Homo sapiens: one gene and its partners. The protein of the gene in region 1 purifies or fractionates together with the protein of each later gene. This does not show direct contact. Each region holds a gene or a part of one and is shown on either strand. Other genes may lie near its edges. The genes, in order: EPHX2, PUDP and BCAT1.

Region 1 (3,657 bases):
TTGTTCAGGGCCCAGGGATAGCTTTTGGAGCTTTTTCCTGATATCTGCGGCTGATTGGGTAATAAACTTATCTTTTAGAATCAATTGACCCTCGAGGGAGTCAGGTGACAGGGGAGTATATTTTCTTAAGGCCTCCTGTAGCCGCTCAAGGAAGGCAGTAGGATTTTCTACCTTTTCCTGAGTTATGGTGGACATCATTGAATAATTCATGGGCTTTTTCCTAATTCTCCTTAGTCCTTCTGGAAGACAGGTCAACGGATGTTTGCGACTCCAGTCCCCATGATCTGAGTCTAGGTCCCAGTGGAGATCCATACTGGGGACGGCTTGTTGACCGGTAGGGATTTGTCCCTTTCTTTGGCTGTCATTCTGTCATTTACTTGACTAAGATACCATTTACTTGACTAAGATACCAAACTCTCAGGCTGCAGCTAAAGCCGCATTCTTTTCATTAAAGGGCAGGGTTTGATCTAACAATAGCATGACATCTCTCTAAGTGAGGTCGAAGGTTTGCCCTAGACCCTGTAGGACATCTATATACCTATCAGTATCATCTGAAAACTTCCCCAGGTCTACCTTGATCTGCTTTAAATCAGAGAGGGAGAAGGGGATATATACCCAGGTTGGGCCAAATTCCCCTCCCCCTACAGCTTGAAGGGGACATAACCGATAGCCCGGGGGTTTTATGGTCCCTTGGAGATTTCTTTGCTTGTTTCCTTCTGAGTGGGGGAGATTAGAGGAGGCTTATCATTAACAGGAAGAGGAGCTGGAGCTAGGCTAGGATATGGAGGTAAGCTCATGTTTCCAATACCAAGAATGTTCTTGTTGTATCAAGTTGCTTTTTTTTTTAATGACCACCTGCCCTTGTTTTATAGATTCAGTGGTATCTTCTTCCTGTATAGTTATATTCTTTCCCTAGTTCCTCTTCTTTTATCATCTCCCATTCTCTAAGAAGAAGAAATAATTTTCCCCTGTTTTCCCACTCACCTAGTGTCTTGTAGTTATTTGTTTATACCTTGCCTCCCTTGTTCTTCTGTGAGCTTCCTATGAATAGCATCATATTTTTCCACTTTTGCATCACAGCACATAGCACAATGCCTCACATACCTAAGATGCTCAATAGGATTGTTAAGTTGAATATTGCATTGCTTCTTAATACTGAGGAGCAGATACTGAAAGGGACCAGGAGTCTTTTGGAGGAGGTGGAAATGTTCTAAAATTGGAATGTGGTGATGCTTACACAACTGTAAATTTACTGCAAATCATTGAATTGTCATACTACATGAATTTAATGCTATGTAATTGTCTTAGTCCATTTTCTGTTGCTTACAACAGGATATCTGAAACTGGGTAATTTATAAAGAAAAGGAATTTATTTCTTGCAGTTATGGAGGCTGATAATTCCAAGGTTGAGGGGTTGCATCTGGTGAGGGCATTTTTGCTGGTAGGGACTCTCTGCAGAGTCTCAAGGTAGCACAGGGCATCATATGGTGAGGGGGCTCAGTGTGCTAGCTCAGGCCTCACTTCCACTTCTTATAAAGCCACTAGTCCCAATCCCATGATAACCCATTAACTCATTAACCCATTAGCCTATGGATGAATTAATCCATCCATGAAGGTGGAGCCCTCATGACCCAATCACTTCTTAAAGGCCCACCTCTCAATTTTAATTTAATGCCACAATGGGGATTAAATTTCAACATGAGCTTCAGAGGAGACAAACGTTCAAACCATAGCAGTAATTATACCTTAACAAAGCTGTTTAAAAAACCAACAACTGTTGGCAAAGGTATGGGAAAACCATTGCTGACATTGAAAAGTTGAGCAAGGCCACAGATATTAGGTATATGTCTCCATATAGTTGGTCCAGAGCTGACCACTGTTACCTGCAAGAGGGTGTCTGATAAAAGGTATACTTGACTATTATCAGAAATAAAGCTCCCAGGATGGGGATATTTGTTCTGTTACTCAGGGCTGGTAATTTTAACTGGCTTGCCACTTCAACTGGAATTCATCTGGGATTGGCAAGCCAGTTAAAATTACTTTCCAGACCTGAGTAATAGAACAAATGCATTCGTACACATAAATACATTTGTTCTGTTACTCAGTGTATTTATTTACTGAGGCTGCTGTAACAGCAAACAGAGACTGGATGGCAACAATGGAAATGTTTTCTCTCACAGCTCTGGAGGCTGGAAGTCCAAGATCAAGATGTCAGCAGGGTTGGTTCCTTCTGAGGCCTCTCTCCTTGGCTTGTTAACAGTGTTCTCCCTGTGTCCTCACATGGTTGACTCTCTGTGTGTGTCTGTGTCCTAATCGCCTTATAAGGGCACCAGTCCTATTGTTGGATTAGAGCCCACCTGTATGATCTTATTTAACTCAATTACCTCTTAAAGACCCACTCTCCAAATACAGTCACATCCTGAGGTATTGGAAGTTAGAACTTCAATGTATGTATTTGGGATGGGGGTATACAACCCAGCCTTAACACAGTGATATGGTTTGAATTTGTGTCCCCACCCAAATCTCCTGTCCAGTTGTAATCCCTAATGTTGGAGGAGGGGGTTGGTGGGAGGTGATTGGATCATGGGGGTGGATTTCCTCCTTGCTGTTCTCGTGATGTTGAGTGAGTTCTCATGAGATCTAGTTGTTTATAAAAGTGTGTAGCACTTACCTCTTCTCTCTCTTCCTCCTGCTCCAACCATGTAACACGTGCCTTGCTTCCCCTTCACCCTCCGCCATGATTGTGAGTTCCCTGAGGCCTCCCCAGCTATGCTTCCTCTACAGCCTGCAGAACCATGAGCCAATTAAATCTCTTTTCTTTATAAATTACCCGATCTGAGGTACGTCTTTATAGCAGTGTGAGAACAGACTAATACAGGAAACTTTTTAAAGGTTAGAAGATGACATTAAGATAAAATAGAAACTAGAGAGGCAGAATCGAAACCACAAAAAACATATTCCATTCTTTTTGAAGAAGGTGAACTCATGAAAAAGTTCTTTGAGACCATGCCTGGTGCACACGAGGACAGTAATGGCCGCGTGCCCACTCTCGGTTCTGACCGTTATATAGTAAAGTAGGAAGCGCCTCTGGGTGAAGCTGCTATTAGGTGGTTTCCCATGGGCAGCTTCTCTGTGGAACATACTGTGATTTACTGTATGGTCTCATGTCCTCAGCTGGATGGCTCCTTGCGCGCAAAGATCCCAATTTGAACTGCGTTTGCATTTTCCAGTTCCTGGCAGTATCCCTTTCTAGTGGCTGCTTCTCAATGAATATGAACAGTGTCTGTTTCCATGTGCTGCCATGACAAAATCCACAGAATGTTCCTGATGTTCTTTGTGTTTTCCAGAGGACTTCTGAATGATGCTTTCCAGAAAGGGGGACCAGAGGGTGCCACTACCCGGCTTATGAAAGGAGAGATCACACTTTCCCAGGTGAGGGGACATCACCACACAGAGCCCTTTGGATGAACGTTCTCTGCCTGTGTGCCCATCTCCCCGAACTTGGGGCCCACCATAATAGAAAACACCCACCTTTTCTGTGAAGACAAATGTTGTTTTAATGGTATTAATGGGAGTATTGCAGTCACCTTAAAACATACTTGCTAATATATTGTGGCAAATGGTGAACGAAAACTGTGATGAAACTATTGGGAAGAA
Region 2 (3,024 bases), on another chromosome or scaffold:
ACCTCAAGTGATCCGCGTACCTCGGCCTCCCAAAATACAGGTGTGAGCCACTGCGCCCAGCCTACGTCACCTTCTTATTGTGATTGATTGTGATAGCAACCAGTTACCAACCTTGACTTTTCGCCACTCTTCATGCTTATTCGAGTCCCCCTTACTTTATGTACGACATTTGTCTTACATGTTGTGTGTAGTATTCCAGATGTCAGTGCCATTTTGGATTATTCTTAAAAATAGGTGAGGACAGATTAATTGAACACAGAGGAACCAGCAAAACGTGAAAGCCATGAGAAACAGTAAAAAGGTCTCCAAGAGCTGGTGTCAGCTGCTCCTGCTGTCAGTGCCGCAGACACTTGCAAGTTTCCCTCCTCACTCACAGCCCTCACTTAGTTGCCTTTAAACAGGGGCTGCCTTTGAAAAGATTTCTCAGGTGTGAAGGGACACCATGGGGCCTGCATTTCCCTCCACTGCAGACCCCCTGTATTAGTCCATTTTCACACTGCTGATAAAGACATACCCAAGACTGGGTAAATTACAAAGAAAAAGAGGTTTAATGGACTCACAGTTCCACATGAATGAGGAGGCCTCACAATCATGGCAGAAGGTGAAAGGTATGTCTTGCATGGCAGCAGGCAAGAGAGAGAATAAGAGCCAAGCGAAAGGGGTTTCCCCTTATAAAACCATCAGATCTTGTGAGACTTATTCACTACCATGAGAATAGTATGGGGAAAACTGCCCCCATGATTCAATTGTCTCCCACCAGGTCCCTCCCACAACACGTGGGGATTCTGGGAGCTACATTTCAAGATGAGATTTGAGTAGGGACACAGCAAAACTGTATGACCCCCTTTAGGTGAGTGCAGGTGTATTGGGTGCCTTCCATTATCTCTTTGGGAACAGCCACAGTCAGCTACTGATTTCCCGTCCCACACACCTGTCTTGCTCCTTGGAAGCAGCCTCACGCAAATAGAGAATAAAAGCTGCTTTCACAACTTAGCCAAGCAGTGTTACCCCAGGGGATAATCCATCTCTTCCTCTACCCCAGTCCACATTTCACAGGTGGACCCTGCACAAAGCTTCAGAATCCCCGGAGAAGGTGACGGATATTTTGAAATGTCATTTGACATTTAAGTGCCTATCTCTGGTCCCAGATAAAAACAGTGGAGGGCATTTAGAATACAATCAAGTCATAACTTTTAAAAAGGCAAGGGCAGAAATATCATGAACAGGTAGTCACTGAATGAGATAACAGAGAAAACCAACTTGGACAGTCTAAGTGGAGTCATTTCTTCTCGCGTCCTACGGTGACCAGTGTCTCACAGGAGAAAGAAACCAGGGGGCATCAGAGGCTGTTGGAAGGGAGGTGTTGGGACGGACTACTGTGGCTTGCCTGGGACTGTCCAGGGTGTAGCACGGAACATCCTGCCCCACAGCTGACCCTTCAGTTCCAAGCAAACCGAAACAGCTGGGCCAACCAAGTTCCCTCTGTGAAAGTAAGGTAGCATTCACATTCCATTGTCACATGGATTAACTCACTTAATCCAGGGTTCAGCCCTGTTGGGATAAGTTGGCTAATATGATATTTTAGCCCCAGATTGAAGGAAAGAATGGGGTAATGGAAAGAAAAAGGGAGGGAGGGAAAAAGAAAAAAGTCATTGTGCTGGCTACAGCACAGACCACTAGTAGTTAAGACTGTGTGTGTGTTTCAGTGTTTTCTACTGAAAACGCCAAAGAATGCAGAGCTTCTCTTTCAGACCTGGCATCAGGCTTCCGTGAGCCCTTTCCAGGACACCAGTGCATTGAGTCGCTGCTATATACCTGGTGATGAGCCGAAGAGGACATTTTCATAATGAAAGGCAAAGGGGGCCAGGTGTGGTGGCACACACCTGTAATCCCAGCACTTTGGGAGGCCGAGGCGGGCAGATCACTTGAGTCCAGGAGTTGGAGACCAGCCTGGCCAACATGGTGAAACCCTGTCTCTACTGAAAAATACAAAAAAAAATTAGCCGGCTTGGTGATGCATGCCTGTAGTCCCAGCTGCTTGGGAGGCTGAGGCATGAGAATTGCTTGAGCCTGGGAGGTAGAGGCTGCAGTGAGCCAAGATCGCACCACTGCACTTCAGCCTGGGTGAGAGAGCAAGACTCTGTCTCACCAAAAAAAAAAAAAGAAAATGCAGAGGGACAAAGGAGACAAAGAAGAGATGAGTGGAGAGCTGAAAGGCCCCACCTCAACAACTCCTGGAGTTCTAGGCCACATGTGGAGAAGAGCAGGGGAGACTCCTCAGCATAGGTCGCCATGGCGAGGACCTCTCTTCCCTTACAGATGTCTGGGCCTCTGCAGAGTCTCAGTTAAAAAGCATCAGTACATCTGTTTTCACATGAAGTGTGTGCCATTCTAGGAATGCAGGGAAGAAGCTTCCTTCCTAAGTGTATGTCTTCCTGAGAGGGTCGGTGATATGAAGATAGCACATGTGGATTATGCTTGTTTATACTATGGAGCAGGCTCTGGGGTGTCTCCTTTGGAGGGAGCCCTCATGTGAAACTTACTGTAACATTGTCAATGTGGTGGCACCTTTAGGAGCTCACTGATAAATGCAGTGTACAAACACCCCATTTTATGTATTGGTTTTTCTTTTAGTACTTTATTTTTTTCCTTTTTAATTTTAATTTTTATTTTAATAGTCTGTAGGGTACAGGTGGCTTTTGGTTACATGGATAAGTTCTTTAGCAGTGATTTCTGAGATTTTAGCACACACGTCAACCGAACAGTGTGCACTGTACCCAGTATGTAGTCTTTTCTTCCTCACCCCGCTAGTCCCCAAAATGCATTATATAGAATTCTTATGGCTTCCCATCCTCATAGCTTAGATTCCACTTATAAGTGAGAGCATACGATATTTGGATTTCCATTCCTGAGTTACTTAGAATAATGGCCTCCAGCTCCATCCATGTTGCTGCAGAAGACATTATTTCATTCCTTTTTATGTCTGAGTAGTATTCCATGGTGTATATATGCCTCATTTTCTTT
Region 3 (3,657 bases), on another chromosome or scaffold:
CATACTTTCAGAGATGTGATGGGTCACCTAAGGTAGAAATGAGTCAGTCATAAGCATCTGAGTAAAGCTCATGAAGTCAGAATTTGTCTATTTAAATATTGACCTGTAACAGCAATAATAATGTAGTAATGTTATAGAAATTGGGACTGCCAATCATATAGGTGAACCCTGTAGCACCTGCCTCAGCCCCTGGTATTGCTGTCTAGAGACAGAATTCAGTGAGAAGAGAACTTGACCAGGAATAAAAACACCTGGATCTAATTTCTTGCCCTGTCCTTTTGCTCTTTGTGACTTCAGACAAGTCATTTAATCTCTCTGGACTCAAGTTTTCTTCTCTGTACAAAGGCACTAATAAACTGTACAACAAATAATCTTCTTAGCAACGCCTTACTGCTGTGATTACACAGATAAGGAATGTGAAACTACATAACACAGTTTGGTAGCAAAATTGATGTCTAACAAATATTACTTCCCTTTCCTTCCAGCCCCATTTTAAAGACTTTTCCCCAGTGATCTAGCTGTAATGAGAAGAAGAGCGAAACTATGCCCTAGTCCAAAGAATTTACCTTAATTTCCCCTCTGCTACTATATTATGGCCTCCAAAGGAGATGGGTGAAATGCGGGTTACAAAAATAGGCAGAGGAATGAAGAACACTTGGATTTAGCCGTCCTCAGGCTTCCTGAATGCATAGGTTGGGCTAAATCCCTGAAGCTGGGCACGGTGGCTCATGCCTGTAATCCCAGAACTTTGGGAGGCTGAGGCAGGCAGATCACTTGAGGCCAGAAGTTCAAGTCCAGCCTGGCTAACATGGTGAAATCATGTCTCCACTAAAAATAATTTTTAAAAAAATTAAGCTGGGCATGGCTGCGTGCACTTGTAATCCCAGATACTAAGGAGGCTGAGGCACAAGAATCACTTGAACCCCGGAGGTGGAGGTTGTAGTGAGCCAAGATTGTGCCACTGCACTATAGCTTGGGTGACAGAGTGAGACTCTCTCTCAAAAAAAAAATCTAACCCATCTTACAATGATTTCTGCTCCATAAGAAACATTGTGACAGCCACGATTCAATGGCCATGAGAAACCATTTTGATATCTTTTTATCTCAAAACATTACTTAAGATAAAATATCAAAATAATTAAGTTACTATATCTTGCTAGCATCTAAAGCAATTAGGCAAAATATCCGCAAAATACCTGTGCTGCACACCATATTTTCCATTTTCAATATTAATTTCATGTGGTCTTCAAATATTATTTTAGGTTGAGATACATTTTTCTTCCTTACTCTTTCATCTCTCACTTGCATATGAATCCCCCACAGACACTGATTTTAAAAAATTGTGGAATTGCCAAATGATATTATTTTCTTGGGTTTTTTGTTTTTTGTTTTTTTTTTTTACAGAGTCTCACTTTGCGGCTTAGGCTGGAGGGCAGTGATGTGATTATCTTGGCTCACTGCAGCCTCCACCTGCCAGGTTCAAGCAATTCTCATGCCTCAGCCACACCGATGGGACCACAGGCATGTGCCACCAAACCCGGCTAATTTTTGTATTTTTTGCAGAGATGGTGTTTCACCATGTTGGCCAGGCTTGTCTCCAATTCCTGGTTTCAAGTGATCCACCCACCTCAGTCTCCCAGAGTGCTGGGATTATAGGAGTGAACCACCGTGCCCGGCCATTTTCTTGTATTTTTACCTAACTAAAGTAGATCAGAAATAATGTTAATGTTCATATGGTTTGTACTGAATATTTATCTAACTATTCAGAAATTATTTATTTGGTGGTCAACACCGTGACCCGTTACATTAAAAGAAACACAAAAGAAACTCCTACACTTACATACCGGCAGAGTTGCCCTCACAGCAGAGCGATACATTCTATCCATGTTGAGGTTTGGCTGAAACAGTCGAATTTTATTATCTACTCCTCGAAATGCCTTCAATCCTTCAAATAACTGGAGATCAAAGAGAAAAAATCTTAGAGGGTAACCAAAAGAAAACAACCCGTGTTCAAGAGACTGACTTTCCTATGGGCGTTCATCTTATTCATCCCATAAAGCTGTTGACATTGACCTCAACTTGAGATCATTAAATCCAGGAAAGCTAACAGTTGACAGGACTGGTAAAAACAATGGTTGAGGTGGAGGAAAGTTATTTTATTATCAGAATTTGGTAGGAATTCCGAGTTCTCCTCTGCTTAGCAGGAGCCACACTGCTGAATAACACATTTAGGTGTTATTTAAGGGAGCAGGAAGAAAACATCTAGAATCACACAGCACAGGTTAATTCCCTAGGCAATGGAGATCGAAACCAAAGGCCTTGTGGCACCGTGGCCCCCAAAGAGTACCCCCATATCCTTTCATGTAATCTGGTTCATTTGAATGCTGGATAGTAGATAATCCAGATGTGACCAGAGCTGGTTCAGTCCCTAAATCACAGAAACCAGGCAGCTCAAGACCATACTATGTTAAGCCACGTCACCTCCCTCAATCAAAGTGCTGTCCTGAACAAACCACTGATCAGGGATTTGAAAAGACTTCAGTAGATACATACTGATAAATACAGAGAAAGACAAAAATCAATAATTTTAGTGGGAAAATTTAACACAGCTTCTCTAAGTAATTTATAGAACAAACAGGCTAAACCTTAGTAAAGATATGCAAGATATGAACAACAGGAAGAACAAACTTCCCTAACTGATACAGAGAACTCTTACACAGACCAGCTGTAGAATTCACATATTTTCCAAACACAAGATAAGCCAGAAATCAATACCAAAAGTTTGACTGGACACCATCCATATTTTGGAAAATAAATCCACCACTAACTAAACCATAGGTCACAGAAGAAAAATGGAAATTAGAAAATAAGTTAAACTGAACGATAATGAAAAGTAAGGCCTTTAAAGATGTATACCCTAAAAACTTACATGGGAAAAAAAGAAATACAAATCATGTATAATTAAAAAGCATAAAATTAGATGTTGTATTTAAGTGCAAATATATTATTAGTTTATTAAATATAACAGTACTAAAGCTTCGGTTAAAATATAAGTTTGTTAGATTGGACTCAGCTGACAATATCTGAATCAAAAAGACAGAAAAAGATATATCATGCAAATACTTTATTTTTTATTATTTATTTTTTTTTTTTGAGACAGAGTTGTTTTTCTCTGTCACCCAGGCTGAATGAAGTTCAGTGGCAAGATCTTGGCTCACTGCAACCTCTACCCCCTGGGTTCAAGCAATCCTCCCACCTCAGCCTCCAGAGTAGCTGGGACTACAGGCGCGCACCACCACGCCCAAGTTAATTTTTTGTATTTTTTGTAGAGACGAGGTTTTGCCATGTTGCCTAGGCTGGTCTCGAACTCCTGGGCTCAAGTGATGTGCCTGCCTCGGCCTCCCAAAGTGCTGGGATTACAGGCATGAGCCACTGCACCTGGCCTGCAAATACTTTCTAAAATAAAACTGGCAAGCTTCCATTACTATTTATAAAACAAAAGAATTTAAGCCAAGAAGCACTACTGAAGATAAAAAAGGCAACTTCAAGGCTGGGTGTGATGGCTCACGTCTGTAATCCCAACACGTTGGGAGGCCAAGGCTGTTGGATCACTTGAGGTCAGGAGTTCGAGACCAGCCTGGACAACATGGTGAAACC

The links.
Region 2: the proteins of EPHX2 (region 1) and PUDP fractionate together in Homo sapiens (co-fractionation; one large-scale study listed by BioGRID). This does not show direct contact.
Region 3: the proteins of EPHX2 (region 1) and BCAT1 fractionate together in Homo sapiens (co-fractionation; one large-scale study listed by BioGRID). This does not show direct contact.

The regions. Positions count from the first base shown.
Region 1 is NC_000008.11:27,497,579-27,501,235, forward strand, and holds part of EPHX2 (bifunctional epoxide hydrolase 2), read left to right. Parts: intron 1-3,347; coding exon 3,348-3,432; intron 3,433-3,657. UniProt on the Homo sapiens protein: Bifunctional enzyme. The C-terminal domain has epoxide hydrolase activity and acts on epoxides (alkene oxides, oxiranes) and arene oxides. Plays a role in xenobiotic metabolism by degrading potentially toxic epoxides.
Region 2 is NC_000023.11:7,051,174-7,054,197, reverse strand, and holds part of PUDP (pseudouridine-5'-phosphatase), read left to right. Parts: intron 1-3,024. UniProt on the Homo sapiens protein: Dephosphorylates pseudouridine 5'-phosphate, a potential intermediate in rRNA degradation. Pseudouridine is then excreted intact in urine.
Region 3 is NC_000012.12:24,879,457-24,883,113, forward strand, and holds part of BCAT1 (branched-chain-amino-acid aminotransferase, cytosolic), read right to left. Parts: intron 1,956-3,657; coding exon 1,845-1,955; intron 1-1,844.